Linked DNA regions of Homo sapiens: region 1 is linked to region 2. Evidence: fine-mapped expression QTL. A gene starts in region 2. The other region holds a variant in brackets. All regions are shown on one strand. Distances are from middle to middle.

The links.
Region 1: its variant is fine-mapped to the expression of SEMA3C in whole blood (TOPMed, PIP 0.98).

What each region holds. Positions count from the first base shown.
Region 1 is chr7:80,936,124-80,952,294 of GRCh38, reverse strand. No RefSeq gene overlaps it. Among named protein-coding and RNA genes, the nearest start is that of SEMA3C, 25 kb to the right of the region's middle. The variant G/C (reference allele first, on the strand shown) is at 6,507.
Region 2 is chr7:80,910,476-80,926,646 of GRCh38, reverse strand. SEMA3C (semaphorin 3C) reads left to right here and starts at 7,596. Exons shown (of 18, transcript NM_006379.5): 1 at 7,596-7,819; 2 at 9,828-9,968. The coding sequence starts at 9,866. RefSeq lists a silencer at 7,330-7,459 and an enhancer at 8,007-8,076.

The DNA of each region.
Region 1 (16,171 bases), 26 kb before region 2:
ACTATAAATACACACCCACACGTATGTTAATTGTGGCACTATTCACAATAGCAAAGACTTGGAACCAACCCAAATGTCCATCAATGATAGACTGGATTAAGAAAATGTGGCACATATACACCATGGAATACTATGCATCCACAAAAAAGGATGAGTTCATGTCCTTTGTAGTGACATGGATGAAGCTGGAAACCATCATTCTGAGTAAACTATCACAAGGACAGAAAACCAAATATCACATGTTCTCACTCACATGTGGGACTTGAAGAATGAGAACACTTGGACACAAGGTGGGAAACATCACACACTGGGACCTGTCTTGGGGAGGGATAGCATTAGGAGAGATACCTAATGTAAATGACAAGTTAATGGGTGCAGCAAACCAACGTGGCTCATGTATACATATGTAACAAACCTGCACGTTGTGCACATGTACCCTAGAACTTAAAGTATAATTTAAAAAAAAAGAGTTGAATAAGAACAACCCCAAAATTACTAAATACAATGATAAATCAGGTAATATTTTGTTGGAGCTTTGGGCAAAGATAAGGATTTTAGGCAGAGTATTGATAAACCAATTCTTAAGAAACAAAATTCACTTTAAATTGTAGTACAAATATTCTCACATCATAGACAATTTCAACTGTTGGCATGCCAATAGTTTACTAACTGTTTAGTAACATTTAGTAAATGGCTATCAAAATACTGAATAGTTGAGAATCATGTCCTACTGAACATGACCTGTCCTCACCCTAAACTCAGTAGTTTGTCTTGTAAAAACAGAAAGACATACTCACATACATATACTCACAAACACACAGTTTTAAACCTGTCACTACTTTGACATCAAATGCATTCAGGGAAATCTAGTAAATAACTGCTTAAAAACCATTTCCACTATAGTCCAATGTACCCAACTCTATTCTAATTCAAGTGGTTTACTGGTACATGTTTAAGAACCAGCTCAGGGAGATAGATTTCTATTTTGTAGTATATACTCCCACCATTGCTGATTTAAAGCTATGGACATGCTATCAATGAACAGAGTTGAAAAGCTACACTCAGTAGCACACCATTGGAGGGCATTTTCACTATATGGAGACAATAGATTTAAATAGTCACAAAAGCATAGGCTATAGTAATACATAGTAGAATAATTAGGAAGTGAGGAGTTTGGGATTTACATTACCTTTGCTTTTAATATAATTAATTGTAAATTTATATAATTTAATTTTAATAATGATTGTATTTAATAACTGGCTTGCAAAACTCCTGAAAATTTAACAATCATTTCTACAAGGCCAGTACAAGTCTGCTCTGTATGCTAGTAACTTCCCCCACAATTTCCCCTACACCACCTGCCAATTATGTGACAGTAATAGAAACACTTGGAATCACACACCAAACTGAGACCTCTACACAGAGGGACACCAAAGGGTCACTGCATGACTCTGCTAAAACTCGTGCCCAAGGTCACCATCAGGATGTCCTATCATGGTTTTTATCCCTTTCTCTAAACCACAGCAGCAACAAAGTTGTGATCATCTATCATTTTAGGCCCAGAGATGTCATCAAGTTTAAAACCACAAGTAGTGATACTGGATTTAAGAAAAGGGCTGCAAGCCAGGACCAGACACATCCAGATACATTCAGCTCGTTCTTGTTTCTTCATTCCTGAAAATACCTAGTGGCAAAAGCCAGTCCTGTGAGCATAGCCTAGGATTCAGAGAGATAAATGCTCTAATAATTGGCTACAGCTAATTGGAAGCAATCGATAGTTCCTCAACTAAGATTTTGCTCTGATCCAAGTACTACGCTAAGCTTGTAAAAACTGCTGTTCTCATTCAGTCTCACTACTTTTTCAAATGTCAGTCTTCATTTTTAATAAGAGAAAACCAAGGTTTAGAGAATTCATATAATATGCCAGGACCCCCAAGGTAATAAATAGCAGAGTGAAATTTGAACTCAGGTCTGTCTAGCTTCAGAAACTATGCTCCTGACAAATGTACTATTCTGCCTAAGGTAATAATGATGATGTTTATGATAATAATGCCTGAGATTACTTGAGTGACTCTTATCTGCTAAGTATTATTCTAAGTTCTTTACATAGACTAACTTATTTAATCCTTATAACAGCTAGACATTAATTAGCACGTTTCCTCAATTCTAAGATATTCTCCATTGTAGAGACACCCTTGACTTGAGAACAGTATTCAAGGAAAAATATGTACTATGTAAATGTCATATTGATTATACTATGCATCCCAAATTAATAAATATTTAAAAATATAAAGCTTATGTCTCAGGACTAAGAAAACATGGTATATTGATGCCTGTATTAACAAGAAGACCAAAGGAAGAAAATCTGAGCAAGGAAGTACAAGATGCGAAGGAGAATGGGAAACTAAAATTCTAAATTACTGGAAGACCATATAGTTTCTCAAGGTTCCTGAGTTCAATGGTCTAATGTTTTGACACTGCCATTACATGAGCTTTATGCATGGTTTGGGTAGAAGAATGTTTTTAGAAAGTAGAGATACAGGGAAACTGAACCATTTATTATTAGAGGAGAAGGCTAAATTATAGGTTATTCTTGAGGAACCTTGCCTATACAGATCTGACAGCCTACTGCCAATCAAAAAATGAGTAGCACTCATTGAGTTACTCCTTCGTTGTGTTGCTTAAATGATGTCTTTCAGATTGAGAGGCAATTTCTCTTCTTAAGTAATGTATTCTCTAAATTACCATTTGCTGTGCCTATTGTACATAAAGGGAGGGGGTGCTAGAACCATGTAGGTGAGGACATTCCCAGAAATCACTGTGGAAGTCATTAGATTGCTTCAGATTCTGCAGGTACGTATGCAGGTTTGAGGTTCCTACCCAAGTGGATAATGTAAGCATCGGCCATGTTGCTCTAAAATTAAGAATATGAAACAACTGCTTTAGTATGAAAGAAAGGATATTCTCCATTTAATCTCTCTCTGTCCTTCTCTGCCTCTGTCTTTGTGTCTCTTAACACACACACACACACACACACACACATATACACACGGCTGTGAGTGAAAAGTCACCCAAAATACAGGAAAAGATATTATAGTAATACCAAGTCCACCCATAAAGCAGAGGAGCTCTAATAAATCCTCCTAATTTCTCAAATATGTAAGGCCCTAGAAGCTGGATGGGTTGAAAGCAATTTTCTCAAGGATCATAATTTGAATACATTTTATGATTGGATTAATTTATCTACAAAAGAAAGTCAGATAATAGCACCGTTAGTAGAAGCTTGAAAAGCAAAGAGAGCAGCAGGAAAGTAGTAGTACAAGATCAAATTCATGCCTTTTTAAAAAAATAAGAAATCAACTTACAGAATACTATATATATTTTATTAGACTTCTGCAGACATGTAAAAGTTAAGAGAGTGAATTAATCTATTTGGAAAATGTTTGCAGTTAGATTGGTAGATTAAAACAATTAAAACAGCCTGAATATAGCCAACTTTATAACAGTAGTAGAGAGTAACAGAATAATCATCATTGTTGAATGTTAATGCAGAATTAATAATTTAAAAAACAAACTTAATTGTAAAATTGGATTGTATTGGAAAGAATAATCAAAGTGACTGTCTTTGGTCCTAAGTAGGAATCTACCACAGAAACTTTCTTCTCTCCTCCCTCCCTCTCTTCCTTTCTTCCTCCCTTCTTCCATTCTTCTCTTTCTTCCATTCTTTCTGCCTTCTTCTCTCTCTCCATGCATGTGTGTGTCTGTGTGTGTGTGTGCTTGTGTGTCTTTCTTTTTGATGGAATTAATTTATATGTGTAATTGTGCACAAGTGTCTGTTAGGCCCTTTGTGTTGGGTCTTAAAGCTGATGCTTCTCTAGAAAAATGGCACAACCTCTAGAGTACAAATAGTCATTTGATAATATGGGAATAAGGTAACACTTTTCTTTTTACTTTGTTTTTTTTCTTTTCTTTTCTTTTTTTTAAATCCAGGATAATCTCCCTGTTTTAAAGTGAGCAGAATAGCAAACTTAATCACATCTACTACCTTATTTTTCCCTTGCCATGTAACCTAACAAATTCACAGACTTCATGGATTAAGATATGGATGTGTTTGTGTTGCAGGGAAGAGGAGACTATTCTATTCCAATGAGCAAACTGCAGAAAAGACAAGTGGCTGCCCTTTGTTTCAATTTAAAAACAAAAGTCCTAGAGAAGAATTCCTATTAGCCGAGCAAGGGCCACCTGCCCATTCTCATGGTAAGGACGGATGGGATTGAGAGTTAGGTGACATATCATATTTGGCAGCCCCAAATAAAACCATGTATTTGGAGTGAAATGGGAAGCAGTCCATTGAAAGAAGCAATGGCTTTTCTCAGAAGGAGGGGAAATGTTAGACACTGTCAATGTTAGACAAGCCAAACAACAGATGTCTCCTGTGCTGCTATTTCACCCTACCTACTTGATACTTCCTTTTAGGTACCCAATGCTCTAGGCAGACCGTAATACTAACTGCTTCCTCCAATCCACATTCATTTTTATATGATCCTTTATGTCTTTTATCAGACAGTACAGCCTTACTGTCATTCTCTGGCTATAGAAATCCCCATTCTTCTAAGTATACATCACGTGCTAATTCTTCTAGAAGAGAAGTCAATTTCTGGAACACCCTGGCTCTCCAGTATTTAAACCATGTACTATAATATGAAAGGTTTGTTTGTTTTTTGTTTGTTTGTTTTGCTTTGTTTTTTGAGACGGAGTCTCACTCTGTCACCAGGCTGGAGTGCAATGGTATGATCTCCGCTCACCGCAACCTCCACCTCCAGGGTTCAAGCAATTCTCCTGCCTCAGCCTTCCAAGTAGCTGGGATTACAGGAGTGTGCCACTATGTTCGGCTCATTCTTTGTATTTTTAGTGGAGACAGGGTTTCACCGTGTTGGCCAGGCTGGTCTCGAACTTCTGACCTCGTGAGCTGCCCACCTCGGCCTCCCAAAGTGCTGGGATTACAGGTGTGAGCCACTGTGCCCGGCCGAAAGGTTTAACAATAATATAATCATGATTCTGAGAGCAAATGTTGTCTTTTCCCATTGCTTGAATATTTCAGAAGCCCTCTTAACTGTTGACTTGGGGAAAATTCATTTGTCCTGTCTGCCCTGATCTTGTATTGTGCTCTGTTTCAAGAATTACTGCAAATGCTTTCCAGAAGTCCAAGATATTTGATTTTGCTGTAGAGTGATTTATGAATGCCAAGTTTACTTTCCAGTCTAAATCTCTTTTCCTATGGTACTAATAGACAGTAATGACAATGCCACACCTTCAGGCCATTTGACTTGTTTCCACAAAGGAAAATTTAATTCTCAAAGAGTATTTTTTTTATTGTAAAGTAATTCACTGGGTTGAAAATTGGATTTTAGTAAGCTACTTTCTAAAATACATAATTAAATTCTGATATAAAAATATTTTTTAAAATTCTGGCCTGTGCTTCGTCACATGTTAATTTTGTATAAAATAAAATTTGCTTTACACATGCTTACCAACATCAGCTCACTGCTCTTGCAGGGAGTTCCAAGACCACACATCACGATGCTCTCAGAAGAAGATTATAGGAAGGCAAATTTAAATGCCAACTCATTTTTAGGTAAATGAGATGATTTTAGATATTTGCTACAACAAAATTAAAGACAATGGAGAGTGTCAAAATGTTGATGTTTCGCATAGATATTTGATTTTTAGCTGAGAGATTTTATCCTGGGGATAAATTGCTTTTTTTATTCCAAGGCTCACTTTCTAACTTTTTAAATTTATCAGATGATCTTAGGCACTTATTTTTACATTACTTTTCCAATAATACAATATTATTCATATGAACAATTCACTAGGCAAATGTTTTTGCTTCTAGTCAGAAAAAAAAAAATCATACAATATCCATCCATATTAGATTTTGTTGCATTTGAACCAATCTCAATTTTACAACTATTAGATATCTACTAATAATTTTTTCTAAACTTTACTTACATTACTTGAATGTGAAAAAAAGACTTGTTGGACCTTCGAAAACTTTTATTGCCAAGAAATTATCCAATCCTTTTGCTTGGATAATTTTCTCTTTGCAAAAGTACTTTGTCTTTTAAAATCTCTAGCTTGCTAACTGTTCCAGCTGGCAAATGACTTCACACTCACTTTCAGTCTGACTAGCTGACACTTCTGCTTTATTAAACTTTTAAATGTCGGAATTCCTCAGGGCTCTCTCCTAGGCCTTCTTCCCTTACCACTCCACATATTTTACCTGGGCTTTATTGTCTTCTCCAATGATTTCATTTACCCTATATATATGGAAGACTCTAAAATAGAAGCCTCAGTACTATAACTGTCATCTGAGCTCCACACTGATAACCACCTGCCCATTTGACAGCTCTACCCAGACATCCCATAGCTACATCACATTTAGTGTCTCTAGAACTGAAAGTATGATATTCTCACGGCCCTCTCCTGTGTTCCATTGGCAGAGA[G/C]GGGCTTCAACATCTCCCTAGTTCTCATTTAAATTTGATATCCAATCTAGCATCAAGTCCTGTTAATTTTATGCCAATGTATTTCAAATATTTTCACTTCTCACATGCTAACCGGACTCCTCACATCAGCATTATTCATATCCAAGCTATAATTCTGTAGCCAGAAAATCTAATGAATTCAACGTTTTCAAAATTCTTCCTTGAATGTATTCTACACCATGCAACCATGGGGCATTTGCACAGGTTATACCCTAAACCCCGGGAATTCTCTACCATCCCCTCTTCACCTTAGTAACACCTTCCATCCTCATATCATAAATATCATTTCCCCATAGGAATTTGCCTGACCCCAAAGTTTAGATTATATTTCTCCATTCTATGCTTTTTTCACCCCAAGTCTCAGATTATAATTAAATAATCAACCTATTATTTGTAATTTATGTTATTACATGTTTGTTATTTATTGTTTTTCTTTGTCTTCAGAATGTAAGCTCCATAAAAGATTATATCAATCTGTTGTCACCTCTACCTACTACAATATTTTACACAGAGAACGTCATAAATAAACATTTGTTAAAGAAATAATAAATAGGCCGGGCGCAGTGGCTCATGCCTGTAATCCCAGCACTTTAGGAGGCCAAGGTGGGAGGATCATGAGGTCAGGAGATGGAGACCATCCTGGCTAACACGGTGAAACCCCGTCTCTACTAAAAATACAAAAAATTAGCCGGGCGTGGTGGCGGGCGCCTGTAGTCCCAGCTGCTCGTGAGGCTGAGGCAGGAGAATGGCATGAACCCGGGAGGCGGAGCTTGCAGTGAGCCGAGATTGCGCCACTGCACTCCAGCCTGGGTGACAGAGCGAGACTCCATCTCAAATAAATACATACATACATACATACATACGTACATAAGTACATACCAACATGCTGCTTAATGTGTTACCCCTTCTAACAGAATTTGCTTTATTAGGAGAATGACTCAAGTGGCTTTGTTTTCTTCTAAAATTATATCCATAATCTACATCCTTTAATCGCCTGATGGTTCTGAGTCCTTTTTGAACTCTGCACTAAGTATAATTAATAGCCAGGATATCCCCAGGTGGGTCTGCGACTGTCATCGCATCTCAGCAGACTGAAAAAGTGATGCCCATTTGGTAAGCTGGGGTAGCAGGACATGTTTCTCTTTAATACTCTAGCCAATACTTAACTAGCAGTTGTAAGGTCCTGTAATGCTCTTTCTTAAGTGTCCATTCTGTTTCCTCCTTGATGCCAATTTGCTTAGGGTCCTCAATGACTTTTGCTTACACTTTACATTCAATGTTAACAAAATAAATAAATTATGATTTTTGTCTTCAAAGAGCTCAGAGTTCAGTGGACTATACAAAACAAGTAAAATAAAAATATCTTCATAGTCCCCATTCAGACAAATCCTGCAACTGAGAAAAAGTGGCAGTGCGTGAGAGAAAGTTATACTAGGTAAAGGGAAGAGCAAATGCAAAGACATAGATGCTTGAGAGGGAGCCACGTGTTGAGAACAATGAGTGATTTAGAGCCCATCGAGACTGGATCCCATAATGAGACAGGCAGAGGAAGGGACTGGTTAAGGTCCCATTGGAAAGCCATTTTACCATGGTAAGTTTACCTTTTATCCTCTGTAAAATAGGGAACTGTGCAAGATTTAAATAGGGAAGTGGAATACTCAGATTGTTCAGATTGGTTTTTTTTTTTTGAAAAGAAACATTGTCGGTATTTTGAAGCATGAACTAAATTAAGGATTAAGGATTAATTAACTTTTCTTGAATCTGCAAGCAAATTTGTCCATTACTGTTCTTTTGTTTTGGTCCAGAAGGGACTATTAATAAAATACGGACTAAAAGGAGAGTTGCTTCTGCATTCTCTACATTGACTGCCTCTACCATCTCTTTATTATATTTATTAACTTGTTATTTTTCTAAGATGCCTGTTATTTCAAATTGCCAGCAGCAATTTTCTTTTGGAGGCTATCCTGGGACTAAAAAAGAATATTCGTTCAAAGGATATGATACAGTATTGTAGAACCTAATTAACACATTTCATATATGAATCATTATGTTATTTATTACATCAGCAATTGACCACAGTTAGTAGAGCAAATAGATTTTAACTTTTTCACCAATTTTTGCAACCCATGGCCACCTAGATACATGTCTCAAAAGGAAATCTCTGCAGAAAGTGTTTATCCAACAGCGATGTTTGCCATATGTGAAGATAAGATCTGGTCATGAGTCCAGGAGCATCAACCCAGTGGGTAGCAGGTAAAAGGTTGGAAGGAAGCAGATTCTGTAGCATTGGGACATTGACAGTGGGGAGCACATGGAGTGCTTGGATCAAAGAGACATTTTAGAACAGTAGTGTGGCAACTTGATGAAGATAATTAGATAATAGTGATATGAAGCAGTTTTCTTGAATCTGCAAGAAAATTTGTCCATTACTGTTCTTTTGTTTTGGTCCAGAAAGGGTTATTAATAAATAGGGACTAAAAGAAGAGTTGCTTCTGCGTTCTCTACATTTGACTGCCTCTACCGTCTGTTACTTTTTTTTTTTTTTGAGACAGAGTCTCGCTCTGGCTAATTTTTTATATTTTTTTAGTAGAGACAGGGTTTCACAGCGTTAGCCAGGATGGTCTCGATCTCCTGACCTCGTGATCTGCCCGCCTCGGCCTCTCAAAGTGCTGGGATTACAGGCGTGAGCCACGGCGCCCGGTCAACTTGTTACTTTTTTTTAGATGGTTGTCTTTTTAAATTGCCAGCAGCAATTTTCTTTTGGAGGCTATTCTGGGACAAATAGAAAATACTGGTTGAAAGGAAATGATACAGTATATGTAGAACCTAACTAACGCATTTCATATATGAATCATTATGTTATTTAATCAGCAAATGTTTGCTCAGTAACTATTTGAATCATTTTGTTTAACTATTAGCATCAGCAAAGATTTGTTCACTGACTCTCTATTACCTAGGATATACCCAGTATTCCAAAAGGGAAAAAAGTAGCATAGCCTCTCCTCTTGAAAACTGTATTTTCCATAATTTATTCAAGCAAAATTGACTACTTAGACACTATCCCTTTGAAGTAGCCCTCCCCAAGCTAACCTATGAACCACTATTTGCTCATAGGAAGGAAGTGGTTCTATCTAAGGCTAAGAGCCAAGAATTTTGCATTCCATTCCATTCATTGCTTCTGTTACTGATTTATTAAGTAATATTAAGTAGCAATTCTGCAGACTTTTCTCTTTGGCCTACTGAGCATGGCAATGCACTGGAAATTCCACTAATGTGGGCACAGCTTGGGGCACGACAAAGAAATAGGTGGAGACTAGAAACACATCTCTGACATGTCTTAGGAATGTCCCTAGGGATATTTCATTACTGAGTAGCTGAGCAGAGACATGACTCAGCCAGAGTTCCTGCAACTGGCTGTCTGGGGCAGCTATGAGAATGCTGGCAGGAGTTGCTGACTAGCCAGTGTTTGGTGAAGATGAAAAACAGCCTTTTAGTTAGAACTGAAACTTCTAAATAGCAATCTGATTGTACAAACTGACTTGAGTTGTTTGTTAGTACTAACATATTAAGAGGGGAATAAATTTGCTATCTGTCTGCAATAGCTTTCTCAAATATGTCAATGCATTTGAAGCACCTTGCGAAGAATTATTATTTAATCAGTGGACATTAGAACTCCTATTTTGATGGATTCTTTAGAAAAATACCTTGATTTTTGCAGTTGAAAAGTGAGAAAGGTTCTGTTGACAGAGAACTAAGAAATATGTAAACTTGTTTCTTAAGAAACAAACACTAAATTGAAGATGGAAAAAAGGGGAAAGAAAAGAGATGGAAGGAAGGTGACCAAGGAATAGAGCAGAAGAATGAAAGAGTGGATGAAAATCTATAGAAAAGCAATGCCTAATAAATAGCATTTATATTAGTGGTGCAAATTTTCCCTCCATGTGATAATATATACAGATAGATATATATTTTACATTGGGATTTTGATTATTTAATATTTATTTTTAGATTGTGTTCACTATCTGTGATATAAAGAAATTCAAAAACTTCTTTCCTGGTTATGAAACATTGTGTTACTCATTGCCTTTTTTTCAAAAACAGAAACTGGACAATTAAGGCTAAGTGCAATCACTCTGTTTAAATTTATTGGGCAATAGTTGCATGATCTTCAGTTGTGGAATTTGTGTGTCAAGGCTCATATGACAATTCCTTTATGGCACTGAAATAAGACTGTACTTGTCTTTGCTTTGTCCTTTCGGCCTGCCCTTGGTGAACTCCTTATTGCAATGAATTCGTATTTCTGAATCTAAAGATGACTAGCTTCTAGCTGCTAAGTTAAATTTAAACCTCCGTGAGGACACCAGCTGTCCCTAAGTGAGATAATTTGCTATTTTCCTCGGGCCAAAAATTCCAGTTTGGGGTAAGACAGGGCCTTGAAATGCACATTCCCTAAGAGGTTACTTTTGATCCAGAGATCTCTTAAAGTGTTAATGAATTTCCACACACATGAGCACCCTGCATTTTTTTCCTTTTGGGTTAAAAACCGAAGAGGTCTATAAGGAGACTGTCTCAGAACTTTGGTTCCCAGAACCATTATTTATATTCAGCTTCAGTGTTCCTTATTTATTAGCTGGGACCTAGCAGAGCAGTTACAGCAACAGAAAACAGCAGATGGCAAATTTCATGGTGGCGATAACACAATAACTGAGAAGTATGTGGTGAGCAATATGGGAGCTCTTCACAAATCCCTTATTATCCTTTTTTGTTATTTCTGTGTGTGGAGGGAGGGATGTTAAATGTTTCGTGTATATTCTCTCTCCTATCCTATAACAATGACACAAGAGTGTATGATGCTATGAAAACAGCTCTCTTGCCTCTAGTTGGGGCAACTCTAAGGTGTGACACACACTCCAGAGCTCCCTGAAAAGTCAGGCTAAAGTTCTTCTCTACAGGATGCATGCCTCTGCACCTGCACTATTGCTTGGCTTACTTCCCTTCTTTCTTCTGCTTTTTCCAACTCCCTAACCTGCATGCCCTAGAGGAATTTCCTTAATAAATTGGTTACACATACATCCTTGGCTCAGGGTCAGCTTGTACTAAACCTACAACAAAGGGAGGGGTGAGTAAAATGAGGAGACAGGGAAAAGATGAATCTCCAAGAGAGATAAAAATGAAAGGTTACTGGAAGGCAGGATGGAGCAAAGAAATCCTTAAAGAAAGGAGGGGAAATAGGGTAAAGGGGGAATCAAGAATTGAGATACTATTGTCTGGCACCATAGTATATGGGACCTTTATTTAGGGGTCCTGAAACATAGTGCTGAAACACAAGGCCCTGACTTCATACTGACTGAGGATAAAATTCCAACTTTTCTACCTCACAAGTGTATAGCCTTAGGCAAAGTAATTTACTCTTTAAGCCTCTGATTTTCCATCTATAAAATGAGTCTGAGATTTTAACCCTTAGAAATACCTTTAAATATGGAAAGAACCTTACACCTAAAGGTATTTATTGCAGCATAATTTAGAGATGTGGTCCCCAACTGGGGGTGATTTTGTTCCCTAATGGACATTTGGCCATATCTAGAGACATTTTTTGTTTTCACAGCTCAGGGATGGGAAGTTACTAGCAGCTAGTGCATAAAGACTAGAAATGTTGGCCGGGCGCGGCGGCTCACGCCTGTAATCCCAGCACTTTGGGAGGCCGAGGTGGGCGGATCACGAGGTCAGGAGATTGGGACCATCCTGGCTAACACGGTGAAACCCCGTCTCTACTAAAAATACAAAAAAAAAAAAATTAGCCTGGCGTGGTGGCGGGTGCCTGTAGTCCCAGCTACTCGGGAGGCTGAGGCAGGAGAATGGCGTGAACCCGGGAGGCGGAGCTTGCAGTGAGCCGAGATCGGCCCACTGCACTCGAGCCTGGGCGACAGTGCGAGACTCTGTCTCGAAAAAAAAAAAAAAAGACTAGAAATGTTGCTATACAACCCACAGTGCACAGAATAGTCTCACACCCCCCTTCAACAACAAAAACGTTTTGGACCAACATGTCAGTAGTGCACAGTTGAGAAACTTTAACGTAGAGTAACAAAAAGTTGAAAGCAAATATTTTAAAAATTTAGAAATAGAGCAAGATTAAATAAATTATAATGCATCCCCTGAACTAAATAATATGCTATAACTGAAAAAATTATTTTTTTTTAAATTGTTGACACCTATGATAAGATGATAACAAAGTAGAAAATGCTGGACAGTCTGTATGTAAATTGTGTAAATCAATTAATTAATTCAAGTCATACTTTTCAAGAGCTAATCCATGCCAGGTATTGGACTAATGGATATTATAGTGGTAAAGGAAACACATTTATGAAATTTGCATTCTAGTAGAGAGAAAGGACAGTAGAAGATAGATAGATAGATAGATAGATAGATAGATAGATAATAGGTAATATAGATAGATGATGAATAAAAAAATGAACAAGAAACAACTCTCTGAAGAACTGATATGTCAGCTGCGATCTCAATTTGTAGAAGGTGTGAATCATGGCAGGATGGAAGGCAGAGCATTCCTAGATAGACTCGTTAGGTTGAAGACTCTAAAGTGAGAACAAGCATGGCAGTTTTGAAGAACAGTAGTGTGAAAAGCCAGAGAAAATTATGGTTAACAATACAAGCTATTGTGGAGAAAGACAGACTTGAATTTGAATCCTCGCTCTGTGGGATATGAAGTGAAATGTTCACTCTTTCAGAAACTTTTTCTTAACATTGTTTCACGGTGTATAATTGGGCATAAGAAAACTTCTCAGGATTATTGTGAAAATGAAATTAGGTAATATATGTAAAGTGCCAAGCATCTTTTACATGATAAGCACTCTATAGTTTGAATTTAATGAAAAAGTCAAGATTAAAAAATATATATGGTATACAAACGGGAATAAAAAAGTCATACAGAGATATATATATGTGTAATATATGTATATTACATAGGTACACACATATACATATGTAATATACATAACATATGTAATATACATAATGTAATTATGTATGTAATTACATATACATAACATATGTAATTTATATGTAATATACATATGCCTATGTAATATACATAACATACACAGTATTAGGGTACAGATGCATTAGATTAGCTAATCATATACATATGCCTATGTAATATACATTACATACACAGTATTAGGGTACAGATGCATTAGATTAGCTAGCCTCCTAGATGCTTCTCATTCTATAATGCCAGGACTTCACAAATTCCTGTACAATGATAAATGACAATAGCTTTTGCTACATGTACTCATTCATATCAGTTCTCTGAACCAATGAAGAATGGCAATCTGATTCTCTAAGGTATAGAAGTGTGGTGGACATAAAGTAACAACTGAAAGAGCCCTGGTCTGGTGACCAACAGGTACCGGTTCTCTTTGAGATTCTGCTGCCTATTAATTTTGATTCCCTAACAATCACCAACTATTCTGAGCCTCAGTTTCTATAGGTATAATGAATAAATTAGACAAAATCATCTTAAAGATCCTTTCTAATTCTAGAATTCTAAATATTGCAGATTATTTAGAGATAAAAGGTGGTTTTACCAGATTTTAGTTTAATCAAGTAGAAAACTGTTTTAGAGAAGATAATACTGGTTCCTCTGAGAAGAAAAATTAAAGAAATCTTTTGGTTTAAGGAAAGTATCTATTTATAATTTGTATAAAATTACATTAATTATAACCAAAATACATGATTATAAATTATCTTCTTTAATGTATTTGCTTTTAATTTTTTATGTTACATGCAGAAATAAAGATGGCTAGGTTTTTACAATAAGTAGTTCCAACAGACCAGTTAGTCGTATAAGGAAATTCTATAAATACCTTCAGTGGAGAAAGACAAGGTGTCCTAGACATCACTGAAATGACCATACATTAGACAGAGGCCATTCCTGACATTGGAAATGGCATCATTTTGAGTGTTAAGCTCAAAAGCACTGATCCAAACTTGGCTTACCCAATTTTTTAGTCTATAATTAAAAATAACTACCTAATCATGTTATTAATACATGAGTTAGAGCGATTTACAAATATTGTTTTATCACATAACAAAAGGAATAAAAGGCAAGTGAGTAATGTACCAGGTTTGTTTCACACAACTTAAGTGAATAAAGAACATACGCCTAATGGTTTATGGAAAGTCACACACAAATAAGATAAGGTCAGGGTCAGGATCCACTTAAGATCCATTAAAATGTCATTGAAGTCAACGATCCACTCCATATGAAAAGGTAATTATACTGTCTGTTGATAAAAACAATCCTTACAAGAAGATGTAGTGACTTACAAGAGGATGAAGACTCATAGTGTTCAAGACTCCTGAATGCATAAAAATTTATAAGAAAATGTTTAATATGTATATTATTTATTATATATTATTAAGTAAAAACATATAATATATAATAAAGCTCATAAGTGGCATTAAATGGGAAAAATCATGAGGGCAAATTCCAAAATATTCTTTTTCATCCCTAGACCAAAACAATTTCTGCAAATATTTTATAGAATGCCTTGAAAATGCCCTCTATAAAATATCTAAAAATATAAAATACGTAATATTGTTATCTGATTATACTAATGAGAGGTTATTTAAAATTTTGAAAGACAATGGCTGGATGCGGTGGCTCACGCCTCTAATCCCAGCACATTGGGAAGCCGAGGCAGGCGGATCACGAGGTCAGGAGTTCGAGACCAGCCTGATCAGCATGGTGAAACCCCATCTGTACTAAAAATACAAAAAATTAGCCAGGCATGGTGGTGCATGACTGTGGTCCCAGCTGCTCGAGAGGCTGCGGCAGGAGAATTGCTTGAACCTGGCAGGCAGAGGTTGCAGTGAGCCGAGATCGCGCTACTGAGCTCCAGCCTGGGCGACAGAGTGAGACTCTATCTCAAAAAAAAAAAAAAAAAAAATTGAGGGACAAACTTTAACACACGGTTTATGTATAATTTTTTTTCTTTAATTCTACAGATGAGAAATTAAGGCCAGAAGTTAAATGAGGGAAGATAGCCAGTCTTTTCCATATCACATATAATGTATTTCGTTTTTAGAATTGTCTAGTTTCTCACATGTAGTGAATTCTTAGCCCAGCCAGAGTCTAATAAGCGTGGTCTTTGGGGAGCAATTATATGAGCATTATGTTTTTCCTGGTGAGCAAATCTTCCCAATGCAAAACAAAATGTTTACCAATGTTGAGGTGGGATAGAGCAACAGTAATTTCAAACAAAATACAGTAGGGAGGAGGGCAGTGGGAATCAAGTGCTAATTGAAGGGGAGAAGGGAAGGCTTTGTTCAAAATAGTGATGGAACATTTGAATTTATATCTTTATCTACTTAACTGTATATTAAAGCAATATTAAAGAGTTTTGTAAAGAGTATGAATTTGCAACAATGAAGTGAGTAGAATGGGGCTATTCCCAAGCTTTTAACATGTTTCTAGAAGGCAGAAAGCAGATGGTAAAGTGGTACTGTTCCAACAGGATAGGAAAATCTGTGGCCCAGGGGACATGAAGAGAAGGCAGCAGCTGGTGAGAAGAGAGTCAATATGTACTGCAAAACCACAGCAAGGTCCA
Region 2 (16,171 bases):
GAACCCACTAGAAGGAACCAATTCTGAACACAATGTTATTATATATGCATTAGGTAACTCCAGATTCTTATATATGGATTATTTTAAATGCTATCTACCTAAAAAATAAAGAAAAAACTTGAGCTGGAAACTTACAGAATAGATGAAAATATAAAAATACAATTAGGTAATTTAGGTTTTAAAGAATTATGTTTTTGTTGCCTTAAATTGAGACTTTAGTAGAAGAAATCCACAATGAAACATGAGAAAAAATAAATTTATATTGAATTTATGTACTAGAAAACTTTTTTCCTTTCTATGCCAGGAATTGCTACTAGTTTCTTTGTAATCATATTTTCTTTTTATTTTTACTGTGATACGATCTTGAGGGAATCTTATTCTAATCTGTTACCAGAAAATTAAAAACGTAATTTCTGAATCTTAATTTTTAAAACTTAAAAGAGAATTTAAGGCTGGGCACGGTGGCTGGTGCCTGTAATCTCAGAACTTTGGAAGGCATAGGCAAGAGGATCACTTGAGCCCAGCAGGAGTTGGACACCAGCCTGAGCAACATGAGGAGACACTGTCTCACAAAAAATACCTGGGCATGGTGGTGCATGCCTGTAGTCTTAGCTACTCAGGAGGCTAAGGTGGGAGAATTGCTTGAGCCCTAGAGGTTGAGGCTGCACTTAAGTTAGCTATGATCACACCAGTGTCCTCCAGCCTAGGCAAGACCCTGTCTCAAAAAAAAAAAAAAAAAAGAATTAATCCAAACCACCTGTTCCTGTAGCAGCTGATTATCAAGAATCAAACCAGTTCAAATGTTCCCAAAGTTTTTACAGACTCAAAATAAAATTTAAATGTGGTCTAAAGGGGATAATACAAACATAATTACCTTTGGAGTAAAATTATGAACCTTGGAAAGTGATTACTTAAGAATCCTATAAGAAATCACATGTGTTGAAATGCCACAGTCTCAGTGACGATAAGATATTTGGATCTTCAAGGTCCTCAAATCATCATTAAAAGAAAAGATCAGTTTAATTAATTGATCAACCATTTATTCAGCTGTCACCATGTGGCAAGACTTGGCTTTAGCTGGCTACAATGTCTAAGATTCCTATGTCCTACTCTGGAGCTGTTGGGAGTCAATGGAGAAAATTTTCACATAATTGTAACATGAAATGATATACCTGAAAAACTTAAGACAATACAAAAGTGAGAGAGGTGTTCACACACATTGTAGTATTTAACTAACACATTATAGTTTTTAACCAATAAACCTAAAGGTAGTTGCTTTAATTCTCATTTTACAAATAACAACACTAGAAGTGGAAATCAAACAATACCCAACATATATAGTTAGTAGGTTAGGAATTGGTGATTTACATGTAAATTTATTTGACATCAAAATTGATATAGTTACAACTCTATATATGACATCTAGGACTTGATTAATTTTGCTTAGGATTAAAAAAAAGGATTATACTATAGAGAGGATGTATTAAAGATAGAGGAGCATTTGCAAAGCCACGGAAGTGTGAGGAGGAATAGTGTAGTCAAACAACGGTCAGGTAGGACATCAGATACACACAGAATTTAAGGTGCCAGGGGAAGGAATGAGCGAGAAGGAGTGAAGAATTAACCTTGACCCAAGCAGTGGAAAGAGACTGTATGAGCCATGGAAATAAGCTGCAACTTTATCCTTCAGTACATGAACAAAAGACTTCAGTAACCCTGGTGACAATTTGCAAACAGGTTACCTGCGACTTTTAATTTTAAAATTACACTTGATATTGATGAACTTCCTGTTACTTAGTCTTGAATCCACTGTGCAAATTTGTTTCTGGGTTTTCATTTACTGTATTTACATGAGTAACAAACTAGATATTTAAAGAGAATAGATTTAATTTATATAACTATAAATGTACTTGGATGGGTAATAAAATAACTTGTATGATTTTCTGTTTTATAATGTGTAATCATTTACGTGGTCAATTTGCTGTTGATTCTCTCTTTGCTTCTACCCATATTCCTTGAACCCCTTCTCCATTTATCTGCCAAAGCTGTTCATTAATCATCTTGGTTCTTCGTATTCTAAAGGATACTAAGGAGAATTAGACACTGTTTCTGCTCTCGAGCTGTCTATAATTTGAGTGAAGATACAATGTCTGTATTTATCATTCAAATCTGAAATGTAATGTGATAAACATCCAAGTAAAACAGAAAACCTTCTTCAGGACCTAAAGAGCCTAGGAGGAAAGTAAAAGTCTCCACTCCCGTTTCTTATTTACTGAGCTTTTGATTAGATGTGTTTGCCAAGAGGTGGTAGAAAGCAGGAAACACATGGACTGTGGGACAGGCAGACCTGAATTTATTGCCTAGGGACCAAAGTAGGGGAAAGCACCTCAAATTTCTGACTGGCTTCCTTGTTTGCATGATGGAGGTACTTATATCTTCTTTTTCAGGGCTGTTAGGGAGATGAAAGAAATACACTTCCTCAAATGTCTATTAATAATGCATGCCCTTTAAATCATGTTGCTCCTTCTAGTACATCTCTGGTCTAAAGTTCAACGAGTCCATTGCAGTGAAGAAAATTGATCAAGGAAAACTATTTAATTGAAATATATTCCAAGAGCTTTATATCTTAAATTATGTCATATTTGTTGAATAATGAAAATTCTATATCCTTCTTTAAAGTTATTAAATGCCACAAATAATGAGAACACATGGACACATAGAGGGGAACAACACACACTGGGGCCTATCAGAGAGGGGAGGACGTGGGGAGGGAGAGGATCAGGAAAAACAACTAATGGATACTAAGCTTAGTACTTGGGTGATGAAATAACCTGTACAACAAACACCTCTAACATTAATTTACCTATATAACAAACCTGCACATGTACCCCTGAACTTAAAAGTGAAAAAAATTTCAAAGCCTCATGACTAAAAATAAATCAAATAAACTGAATAAGTGGTTGATTCTTTGCAAATTTCCTACACAGCCCCCTCTACCTCCTGGAAATCACTGTTAGAGAAGACAGCAGGATTTCTCATGTGACTTTCATTATGAGAATGCATCTGCTAGGATGTGAAAGTTCTTTGCACAATTTAATACTCCACTTTCTAGTCAACCATTTAAAGTCCAAGAAGAGGATAACAATAGTAAAATCTGAAGATTACATGGAAAGGCCCTTGCCCATTTCGAAGGGCTGTAGATGGGAGTCAATTAGCCGTAACTAACAGTCCTGCATTCATTGCTCCAGCTGGTTATTATTTTTGAGCCTCATTACATGCGTCTGACAATCAGAGGCACTTATGCAGGCCTCTTATGGCTCTCCTGTGAGAACAGATATGGGAAGTGGTTTTGGTCTTCCAGGTGTAGAGACAGAGAGCTTCAGATCCAATATGATTCATAAAAGCTGCTGGCTTTCCTCAAGACGTGACTGTGGATGGGTGTGCATATACTCCACTAGCAAACATTAACTGTGGGATTCTCTGCAACTGCAGTTGTATATAATCTCAAATACATATACTCTGTCCTCACTGAGGCTTCACATGAAATATTCCAAGAAGGCAAAACAAATAGAAAGTTTACATTTTGTCCTTGTGATGAAAATGTGAATGATCATAATAACTCTATTACAACCTTTGTCATGCACACATGACATTTTTGTACTAAGGAAGTAAATTCACTAAGGGATTCTTACTACTGAAATTCTTTACTATTCTACTTTTACATGAAATATTGTAATATATAAACATTAGAGGCAATATGCTTTTATTTTGGTTGAGTTGCGAAATATTGCGCTTAACATACTTGATATGTTTAAAGGTGTTTAAGGAAATACTGAGGACTTAAACTTTGAACTTTGTAATAGCTTATACACTCACCTCGTTTAAAATTATAAATGTAAAACAGAGTGAACCATGAAACCTTTCTAGCCAATTTTCCTCTCCAGAGCAAACCACTGTTGCCAGTTTATTTTGTTTAATGTCAAGAACCCTACAATTTGAGAAGCATAGAGTGGTACATATCAACAGAGAAAAAACAGTCAGCAATACAGATTAGCAATAGATTAAGAATGAAAATAGAGATACACTCATCTTATTGAAAAATTAGAAATGATTTGATAGAGGAAATATTAAAGCCTATTTGCTGTGCAGGTAGCAGTTTCACACACAGATTTCTAGACCAGACCTGTTTGACCGGCTTGGTCTCAGAGCTGCTAATGTAACCCAAGGAGACGTAAGGCTGATGTAAATAAAGTAAGTAACCATTGGAAGTTGAGACTTTCCAAAGATACAGTTCAGGAAACTTAAAAGGATGGCATATGGAAGTTGAGTGAAGGAGAAAGAGAGGGAAGTAGAAAAGAGGAGAAAAATGTTAAGCAAAAAAGGTAAGAGGAAGTATTGAAACTTATTGAAAAACCTGAGACATTACGGCAATCACGCTTGAGTTTCTCTTCCTATTCTGATATTTACTACCCATTTGACTTTGGGCAAACCTTCAACGTTCTCTCATTGAAAATTGTAACTTCATTAAAGAATGCTATGCAGATAATAAGCAAAGTACCTCGCAAATACACAATCTATTTTCTATTACAAATATCAGTTTTTATGACTAAATAATAAGACAATTTTTAACCTCTGAATGATTAATATTCTCTGGTTAGGGTAAAGTTTATTTACATGACTCATCTGTATAATAGGGAAAAATCTGTTTTCTTTAAATTTGAAATAAGATAATGTATAGCTGCAGAAACTCCTGGAGAAAAGTATGTAACTCAACATCGGTGCTAGAGTTTTAAGTTAAATAGCATTCCTCAGGACCATCAAAAACATAAAATATTAAAAATATGCCCACTACACCTTGGCAGGCAGAGACACTTCAGTGTGTAAGATACTGCACCATTTCTAAAACGTCTTAATAAAAGTTATCCTAAGTATTTTAGTTTGGCCGCTCGTCTGAAACGTTTTGCTGGGTGCAAACATTGTAATTAGTGCTCTCTAAATTTAGTTGTGCCACTACTCCTGTAGATCCATTTAGTGTCCCCCTTACCGAAAACAGCGTTCTCAATTAGCTGTTGTTTTCCACTTGTAAGGACAGTCAAAGCTGAAGTCTTAAAAAAGTGGTAGTGCCCAGAAATGTTTCTTAGGCAAGTCTTGTTTTGTCAAGGTGTTTTAAGCAGTGTGGGGAAATGTGGGCAGAGATTAATCTTAGGGGCTTCTAGTGCCACTGTTAAAATTCCACTCTGTGGCCTAAGTCTCTGGCAAGCATGAGCACTGTGTCCTTGCGCTTGAATCTATCTTGGCTAAAGCCTATCAGTATTTTTATGATTCATTTTGAGGTGTGGCCAACTGTAAACGTCTCAGAGCTAAGCAAATACCATTAAATCCCAGGAGCACATTGAAAAGAGGTTTATTTGAGCAATATTGAGGGAATTTCGGCACAAATTTCATGGGCTGTGATTAAATCTAAGCTATTTGTCAAGGCCTCCAAACCCCTGAATGTGTAACAGATTGAGCTAATTCATTGGTGTTTGTAAATTGAGTTTGGAATTAAGCTCCTTTGTAAATACACCGTTTGAGATGCATTTCATCTTGCAACTCTTTATCGTGGTTTTCTCAAACTTAAAATGTATAAACGAATTCCATCTTACGTGAATTTGCTGATCAATTTCTAACAGCTCCACATTTCTAAATTAATTTAATCCACACACTCATCTTTCTAATGATTTATTCTTCTCCCTGCTTAATATATAAATGCCGAATGAGATATCAGAAGGAGGATAATAGTGGAGAGTATATAACCTGGATCTTACTCAGTTTCAGAAGTATTTCAGAGAAGCACGCACAGTGCTTATTCACATTGACATCTGGATTTTAATATTGTCAGTTTTTGGGGGGTTAAATTCCTTATTACAAATTTATGTCAAGGATCTTCTCACGCATCATCACAAAAAATAATTTTAACTGTTGTTACTATATTAATTTTTTGACGTTTGGAGATAATATTAGCCCTGGAATAGTATTTTTGAACTCATAAATTTGCATTATTTGACTTGATCCTTCGTTCCTTGACTATGCAGCGTGAGTCTGAGACACGTGTATGTTTACTGAACACAAGAGGTGGGCCCCAGACACATGAAAGATGTGTCTCACTCACCTCTTCCTCCTACCTGAGATTTCATTCAACTTTCCCACTGAACAATGATTTTGCACCCCCAGAGGGGTTTTCTATGATACAGTTTATAAGAATTTAATGATTGTTTCATTATGTGAATTGTCAGGTATAAGGTGGAGATATTACACTCCACGTTCCTTCTGTAGAGTGACATCTGCTGGGCTGTGCCCCACAGTGATTTTAAGCAAGTGCCTGCTTGTTTTATGGGGATCAAAGCTCATTTCTCCCGATGTTTAAACATCTAGTTTATTGTGGTCCGGAGAAGTAATTTTCACTTAAACATCAAAGTCAGTTCCAGAGTTTAACGAGTGTACCTGAAAGTAATGCTGGAAAAATACCTCTGATGTATTTCTGTAGATGTGTGGTTATGGCAATCTGTTGGCATAACTCAGAACAGCCTCTCCACATAGAATTGTCAAATAATTTCTTCGTGTAATTATGTTTGGGAGTATGGTTGGGGACAACGTACTGGATATGAGTCAACGTGGAGGGGTCAACAGAATTACTGCTTTCAGGGCATTAAGGAAACTCAATAGGAAACAATACCCATTAAAAGGATACACTTGTGCAACAAGATTGTCGTTTATCTTGACCTGTTTTAGAAAACACGCAACAGAGGCCCGGCGCGGTGGCTCTCGGCACTTTGGGCGGCTGAGGCGGGCGGACCATTAGGTCAAGAGATCCAGACCATCCTGGCCCTGTCTCTACTAAAAATACAAAAATTAGCTGGGCGTGGTGGTGGGAGCCTGTAGTCCCAGCTATTCAGGAGGCTGAGGCAGGAGAATCGCTTGAACCCGGGAGGCGGAGGTTGCAGTGAGCCATGATCACACCACTGCACTGCACTCCAGCCTGGCGACAGAGTGAGATTCCCTCTCCAAAAACAAAACAAAAAACAAAAAACAAAAAACAAAAAAAAAACGCAGCAGAATAAGGACAAAACTCACGTCCTTTTAAAAACGCATCTCTTTGCCTTAAAAGGCTGCAGTGATCCTTCCCTGGCAAAAATAAAAAACCACAACTGCTTTGCACTTTGATATTTACGGCCAGGCAAAGCCTGTGTAAGTCTTCGAGAGCCGCCGGCAACAAAAACCGTGGAGCGCACCCAGCAAGTTGCTCACTCCGCCGCGGACTGCGAAAGGAGCAGGGTTGCGGAGCTAGGGCTCCAGCCTGCGGCCGCGCATTCTTGCGTCTGGCCAGCCGCGAGCTCTAAGGGTCGGCCCCGCCCGGTCCGCCCCCGCGGCTCCCTGCCAGGCTCTCGCGGGCGCGCTCGGGGTGGGGCCTCGCGGCTGGCGGAGATGCGGCCGGGGCTGCGCGGTGGTGATGCGAGCCTGCAGGGCGGCGCGCCGGGGCAGCCGGAGCCGCGCGCCGCGGCGCTGTAATCGGACACCAAGAGCGCTCGCCCCCGGCCTCCGGCCACTTTCCATTCACTCCGAGGTGCTTGATTGAGCGACGCGGAGAAGAGCTCCGGGTGCCGCGGCACTGCAGCGCTGAGATTCCTTTACAAAGAAACTCAGAGGACCGGGAAGAAAGAATTTCACCTTTGCGACGTGCTAGAAAATAAGGTCGTCTGGGAAAAGGACTGGAGACACAAGCGCATCCAACCCCGGTAGCAAACTGATGACTTTTCCGTGCTGATTTCTTTCAACCTCGGTAAGCTAAATTGGTCATTTTCCGCATTACAGATTTAGCAAAGTATAACTTTTTTGGCCTGTATATTGATTTTTCATACATTGGTATGCTCAAGCCTGGACATTTTCTTAAGAACACACGCGGTTTGTCAGGGAAGCTTTCCCCTTGCTGAGAGCCCTGCTCGAGTTGTTTCTTTAGGCGGTGACACCTGCGGAGAGTTTCAAGTTGAGTATTACAGTGCCTTCAAAGGCAAAATTGCTCCAGAGGAGATAAGAGAATTCTTTTCTTAATGTGTTGTTAGTTTGCGATCAGCAGAAGTGAAAACACCAAGAGGAACGTCTGTGTCTGAGTTAAAGGGAAGAAGTTGTAAGATACTGTTGGGGAGGCGGGGGTGTATTTAAGACACTTGGCTTTCAGTCTTTCACTCCTCATCACTAGGTGGGATGTAAATCAAATTGCCCTGTAGACTATCTTCGTTTCACCTGCCATTGTATCACCAGTATTCTTTGCAATTGGTTGTATATGTACTTTTGGGAGAAACATATAAGGTAAGATACCAATATGTAAAAAAAATGTGTAAATAATATCAACTTGCTCAGTAAACATAACAAAGGTTAGGCATATTAATAGTTTTTTTCTTTTGGCTTTAACTATGAAGTCAACAGAACCAAGGGGTAAATTACTGAGGGAAAGTCACCCATAAAATCAGTTTCTTTCTAAGTTAATTTAGGGATGACAGGGTGAAGAGGTTGTGGAAGCAGGAAGAAACTGTTTCTTTTGAAAATTACCAACACAAACATCTCTAGAGTTTCCTCCATCTGTGTGGTAAAAGAAGCGTACAATTTCATTTCTAACTCTCATAACATATGCACCACCTAGGAAATCTACTTACAATTTTTGTTTAAAATTGCATATTCCATTTAATTCTTTTTATTCTGTATTAATGAAGCTGTCTTTTTCAGTTGTTAGTGGTTCTTACAAAGAATTTAATAATTTTGACTATGAAATTTTAATTTGAAAAGCCAAATAATGAAGATCAGCATTGTTGTAACCTGTAAAAATAAATTTCTTTACTGGACTCTTGGGTCACTTTATTGTGTAATTATGGTAGAAGCAAAATGATTGTGTTTCTTTAATGGTCCTGAGTTTATTTTACATGATGTAGCCACTAGAGCTCCTGTAGGTTTATGGTAACACATTATCTGGTCTTCCTTGGGATTCAGATATTAGTTAATAGCATGTACCAATTTTATATCTATAGTTTGAAGCAGTGACACCTGTCTCTTTGATTTATCTTTGGGAATTTTGACAGCCCACATTCTGGTTGATTTATTTAAAATATGCATTGGTGGATACATGGCTCACTGGATTGCTCACCACTAGGTCATTGGTTTGAATTTGGCACTAGTCCATGGTTACTTCAACTGCATCATTTAACAACTGCCTGTTGGTCATCTGGATAAAATGGCAGATAACTGATTCCAGTGACTTCAGTGATCCAGGATTGAGCACACATAGATTTATGTAAGGAAACACCACTTCCAGAGACAATTACTCCAAAAGAGCTAATGACTATTGAAGTGAGTAGGTACACATGAATGCTCATGTGAGATTTTGCTGCTGCTGTTACGTTAGTGGGGGGAAAGAGTTCTCATCCAGTAATATTCTTTTAGCTCAATTCTATTCAAGTCTTTTTAATGTAATGGATTTCTAGAGAGAAGATCCGTTAAAATATTGGGCTTTCCTTTGGGTATCAGTGTTTTTCTTCACTGCTTTGTTCTGTTTTGATGGTAGCATCAATTTGCTGGAAGATGAAAGTTTCTCTTGTTGCAAAGACTTCCAGACACAAATGAATCAAATCCACATTTTCACATCTGAGAAGCAAAGACACAGCACCTCCTACTGTTTGCATTACTGTAAAAGTTCAGATGGTTCTTTTGTGAATAGGGTGTTTTGTCTAGATTGCTGTTTTTTCCTACTCCTAAAATGTGAAATGAGATATAACAAACATGTTGTCTCTCTCTTAAAGGTATTTTCCCTTGGATATTAACTTGCATATCTGAAGAAATGGCATTCCGGACAATTTGCGTGTTGGTTGGAGTATTTATTTGTTCTATCTGTGTGAAAGGATCTTCCCAGCCCCAAGCAAGAGTTTATTTAACATTTGATGGTAAGAGAGTTGATAAACACTCTGGGAAAAATGTTATTTTAAGTTTTGTTATCTTCCTTATCCAGATTCAGAAATTAAGAGTATAAATATTACTGGATATTAATTTTAAAAATATTTACTGGGCTGCGTTTTGGAGGACAATAGCTATTTTAAATGATTGGTTAATAGACAAAGATCCTCTGTTGGATTTGAGGTATTTATGAAAATGCTTATAATATATGCTGCTTTTTGTAAAATAATTCTTCTGTGCTTGCCTGTGTACTCACAGAGGAGATGGGCACGAGCTCAAAGCCTAGCATCTTTGATCTTACTGTTCACCTGGTAATGTTAAGAAATTGCCCCTTTGTGCTAATCCTCAGCAGCAGAGAGAGCTATGCAGGTTCAATTACTAAAAAATTCTCCCAATTAATTTTTTGGGCATTAGTCTCAAAACTGGTTACTCCGTGTGTTGTTCTAATGGTGTTTCTTCTTTTTCCACAAGGATTTCCTGAGATTGGCATAGTCCCCTAATTAATTGAAAAGGACCTAAAAGAATAATTGGAAATATGCTTTTGATGGTTGTTGTATACAAATGTTCTCAGAAGCTTAGGGAAATGGGTGTGATTTCAGATTTTCACATACATAAAAGGTGCAAGGTCTTCTGAGGGAATGGTTTGCATGAGCTTTAATGTATATAGTTCAAAGGACTTACAGATGAATGAATTTGGTTAGTCAAGTAACCCATACTAATTGGACAGATGGAGCAAGACATGGATGAGGAACACCATCCTGCCAATCAAGGTCATTTATAATTTTATTACTTCTTTCAACTCTGCATAAACTTTAGTGTCATTGCAAGTACTTTTTCTTTCATTTGATAAACAATATATTCTCAGACCTTTCTATAGCAGAGTGTCTCTGAAACTTTGTCTCAAATTCCTTTTTTTTTTTTTTTTTTTGAGACAGTGTCTCACGCTGTCACCAGGTTGGAGTGCAGTGACACGATCTCGGCTCACTGCAGTCTCCACCTCCCAGGTTCAAGCCATTCTCCTTCCTCAGCCTACCCAGTAGCTGGGATTACAGGTGCGTGCCACCACACCGAGCTAATTTTTGTATTTTTAGTAGAGACGGAGTTTCACCATGTTGGCCAGGATGGTCTCGATCTCCTGACCTTGTGATCTGCCCGCCTCCGCCTCCCGAGGTGAGCCACCACGCCTGGCCTCAAATTTCAAATAGCAGAATGACTGACACTTGCCAGTCAAATGGCTGTCCTTTTTTTCTTTTTAAGTCACCAGTGCTTTCCCCAAGGTTGTCATAAGCACCGAAGGAGCCATATTTGGAACTTAGAATGTGTGAGCTTCTAATTGCTTCCTTAGCCTCCATGCAAGGCATTTCCCCTTAAAACCCATAGCTATGCAGTTAAGTTGTGAAGAATGGAAAAACAGACCCTTTGAGGTATCCTTTTTAGCCCCTTAATTACTAAAGCATCTTACAGACTACCCACACTTTTCCTCCCAAGTTAGAACTATGAAATACGTTTTCAAATAAAAGAGAAAGGGCATTAAGAAGTAGTGCAATTTCCCCTCTATTTTCTATATTTCTCCTAGTATATATAGAGATGGAGTGACCTAATAGATTAGATGTCTCTACCTGCTTTCTTTTCCATTACATGAAAATTAATCCAAACTAATGTAAATATCAACAAAAAGTGTGTTACTAGAGATAATGAACCAATTCTGTATTTGAAAAAGCAATTGCAATTCATATTTTACAGAAGGAAATTACATAGTATAATCTTTTAGAACCAGACTTCAGAACTGTGTAAGACAGTGACAGCTATGCTATACAGTGACTAGAAGTAATGATGGGATTTAAAATAATATATGCCTAATATTTTAAATGCACTCAAACTTAAAACAGATTCTTGCAGAATAAGACTTGCCTTGATTTGTAACTTATGTAGAATATGACATGAGTTGTTGATCTCAAAGTTCTATAATTCCTGATATTTTGTTCTTCTCAGGTGTATTACTGGTACTCTTAGGAAGTGAGAGAAAAACAGAGCAAATAATCAGAGAGATAGAAAATCACTTGTTTTGAATACTGTTTAAAAGAGATGTATCAACAGTGAGAATACATCTAATAAAATTGCACGATTGGTAACTCAATAATTTTAAACATTCCTACAATGAACTACATAGACAAGTTATAGGGAAAGTATCAGGCGAAAACAGTTGTCAAAATGTACAAATTTTAAACCTTGGTTCAATACAGTTTTCTTAGGAGATTTCACAGTGTACCTGCTTGAAATGCCTGTTCAAATTTATTATTATTTAAAGTTTCTCATTAGTCAAATGATGACTCATTGACTATTGTACCAAGTAGGTTTTTAAGTTTCCTCCAAAGTAGTTTATTCTCAACATCAAAATATAGAGCTTTGTATGGGGTTAATGTATTTAAGAGTATATATTTAAATACATGTGGCATATACTTCTAGTTCGTATTTCTAAAGTTCTATTACTGTTTTCCAATAAAAAATCAGCAACTGAAAGGTGTTTTGCAGAAATTCAGATAGTTTCAAGTTGTATTAGACAGAGGTCATTTGCATTACTTGTTTTATATCTCTAAGTACCTTTAGATTCTCTCGTAATTACTTTACCTACTGGCTCTTTTGTCTTGAATTCTTCTCCATCACTGTAACTTGGTCCTCTGCCTGTCTCTCTCTGGGTGGAACTTGAGAAGAAACCACTCAGTCTTGTGTTACTTCCGGTGCAATAAGCATCATAGGCAATTTCAAGGTGTGTAGAGCAATGAGTCTCTTCTCCCATTCATGTTCCATCCCTTTTTCTTGTGGTGAAATAATGGAGTAATAACATTTGTAAAACAGTGATTTACAGGTTTGCCTTCCCTGTTGATCTAGGGCAAGGTCAACCAGATGGTCATCAGTCCTGTGGGAGAATGTACTTCAGATGTTATTAATTAGTTACATTTGTGCTACTTAAATCTTCTATGTTGAGACCTGTGACTTCTAATATTTTCTTTTGTAATTGGTCTAACTCTTATTTTATGCCAAATAGCTTTGCAAGTGAATATAAGGTTCACACAAATGCTTTTAGTATAAGTTTTTCCTTAGTTAATATTGGCCAATCTTGCAGCCCATGGCTGAATTTACATTTGCATATGCATGACAGTGGTTTAAAAACAGAAAACTGAGTGTGAGTTTTGAATTGGAAATAGGTATTTTATGACTAAGCACTAGACTTGCATAGGATTACCTGTTTTTTCTTTTCCTTTTTTTTGAGACAGAGTCTCGCTCTGCCTCCCAGGCTGGAGTGCAATGGTGAGATCTTGGCTCACTGCAACCTCCACCTCCTGGGTTCAAGCAATTGTCCTGCCTCAGCCTCCCGAGTAGCTGGGATTACAGGTGTGCGACACCATGCCCAGCTAATTTTTGTACTTTTAGTAGAGACAGGGTTTCACCACGTTGGCCCGGCTGGTCTCGAACTCCTGACTTCAGGTGATCCGCCTGTCTCAGCCTCCCAAATTGTTGACATTACAGGCGTGAGCCACTGCGCCTGGCCCTGTTTTATTTATTTACTTTGTGATTCATTTTCCCTTTTGTGTGTGCTGAATTTTTAGTAATAAAGCTGCCAAAGTCTCCAGGTCTTTGATAGTATGTAAATGAAAGACTATGGAATTTTATAAAACATCTTTTAAAATCACCCTCAACAAATAAAAGAATCCCTGTGAACTAATGAACTAAGCCCCAAAGCTGATGAATTGTTATTGGACAATAAACTGAAAATAATAAATTGCCTCTTTATGAGCTCTGGTAGCATTAGCATTACAAGGCACGTTTGTTGAAATAGTTTTTGTTGTGGTTGCCCAAGAAATGAAAATAAAAGCAGTTGTTCTTGATTTCTCCGTTAATCTTGGAAGATGCTTACTCTGGGTGTATTGAATCTTCTCAGGTTTGTGTTACTGAGAAGTATTTAGTTCTCAGGTGTGTGTTATGGCATTTTCTTTTAAGTCTCCTTATGATGGTTTCAATTAAATGTCACTGAAATATCTTGAAGCACACATGAGTGTTTTAGTAAACCCAAACTCAAGGGGTGCTCTGTGAATAAAAAGTTCCTTCTACTCTCCCCCTTGTGAGAGTTTAATTGAACTCAGCAAAGGATTGATGAATTCACTTGTGAGTTGGACATTACCTGAAACATGAGTCTAGAATAGAGTAACACTAAATTTGTAAAGCAGCAAGGTAAAAACTGTTATAAAATACAATTGCAATGGAAGATGAGAAGAATTGCTAAGAAATGTAGCCTCGTATGTCTATTTTCCCCTGTAATATGTATTGATATAGGGCTCTGGTAATCAAAATAAAATAATATTTCTAGTAGACTTGAATTGGAGGGAGGAAATTTTATTTCAGGTATTGCAAAGAACATCTCTTGAAAATTTTAGGATAAAAGGTGTTACATTGATATGCTGTGGATTTCTCCTAGAGAAAAAATTTTAGAAAAATGTGTAAGCCTATATTTTCCTGTTTAAAAAAGTAATTACTGTTCCAGGTGAGTTTCATCAGATTATAATAAGCTTGATTCTGTTGCCAATAAATGATATTCTGTGTTAAGCCATTCAGAGTTACAAGGTTCCTACAATTGGGAGCAAAGAAGGAATGCTTTAGTGTTCTGAAGTTAGAAGAGTGAGCTTGAGTGTTTTGTTAATCGGTCATACGAACACAGCGGTTCCATTAAAAAAAAATGTGGTCGAGCACGGGGGCTCACGCCTGTAATCCTAGCACTTTGGGAGGCCAAGGCGGGTGGATCACGAGGTCAGGAGATCAAGATCATGCTGGCTATCGTGGTGATACCCCGTCTCTACTAAAAATACAAAAAATTAGCCAGGCATGGTGGTGGCCACCTGTAGTCCTAGCTACTCGGGAGGCTGAGGCAGGAGAATGGCATAAACTCGGGAGGCAGAGCTTGCAGTGAGTCGAGGTCGTGCCATTGTACTCCAGCCTGAGCCATTGTACTCCAGCCTGAGCAAGAGAGTGAGACTCTCTTTCAAAAAAAAAAAAAAAGGTCCTATTCTATGAATTAATAGACATGCCTAAACATGTTTACTAAATTGAACTCTTTATCAAATGAAGATGGTGCAAGTGATCCTAGATAGCTTATTTTAAATTTGTTCACATGTTGATCATATATGTTGATATGTTGTTCACATATATTGATAAAACGATGTTACTTAGCCTTTATTTGCAATTTTGATTCAGAAGATATATCTAGAACCAAAGTTATACATTTTCGCATTCTTCCTAGGTGTATACTACTTTTTGTCTTCTTTGTTTCTAAAATAGTTTTGGCAATTAAACACTAACATTAATACTGACTTTGTGGCAGCCATTTCTGTAGCTGCCATGAGAATTAGTTTTAAGATCCACAAAGATCACAATGAAAGGAAAAAGGAAAAGAATTTTTCTCAGTAAGATATTCTGTAAACATATCATGTTAACTATGTCATGCTAGAATTTTACATTGCTCTTAGAACATCAAACCTGCCTGAAAATGAAATAAAATTCATTCCCTATATCATCCCAAATTCCCCCTTTAATTTATGATTCATCAAGGTGAAGATGAGGGGAATTACCTCTCTGGAACATGTTTATTTTGTTGCTGTAACTGAGATCTCCCTTTGTGCCTATGCGAGCAAGTCAGTGCTTAGATGGATAACAGTAGAAAAAAATTATTATACACTCTCCTCATTTCATTATGCAAATTTATCAGGATGTATCTCCATAAATTCACTATACCTTGCACTGTCTTTTAAAACAAAAGATTCAGATGTTCTTTTTCATGGATATCATTCATTGCATTAAAAAAATGGCACCGAGACACACTCAATTTTTTCTTTCATAAACATCTTTTATATAAGGAGGTTGTAAAAAATAACTTATTTTAAATAAAAAAACTATCACTTTGCTATAATAAAGAACTATCACTTTGGTTTTAGTTCCATTACTGTTAAAAAAAAAAAAAAAAAGAACGAGCATTGGGAAATAGAGCTGTGAGCTTTGGGCAGATTCCAGCACTTTTTTGCCTTCTGCATTTTCATTTATATATTACTGAAGACCTCTGTTGTTAAGGAAAACACATTTAAAGGCAAGGAACAGAAAGGTAAGATGTTCTGTAGCTCAGAGTATGAGTTAGCAAGAAGGGCAC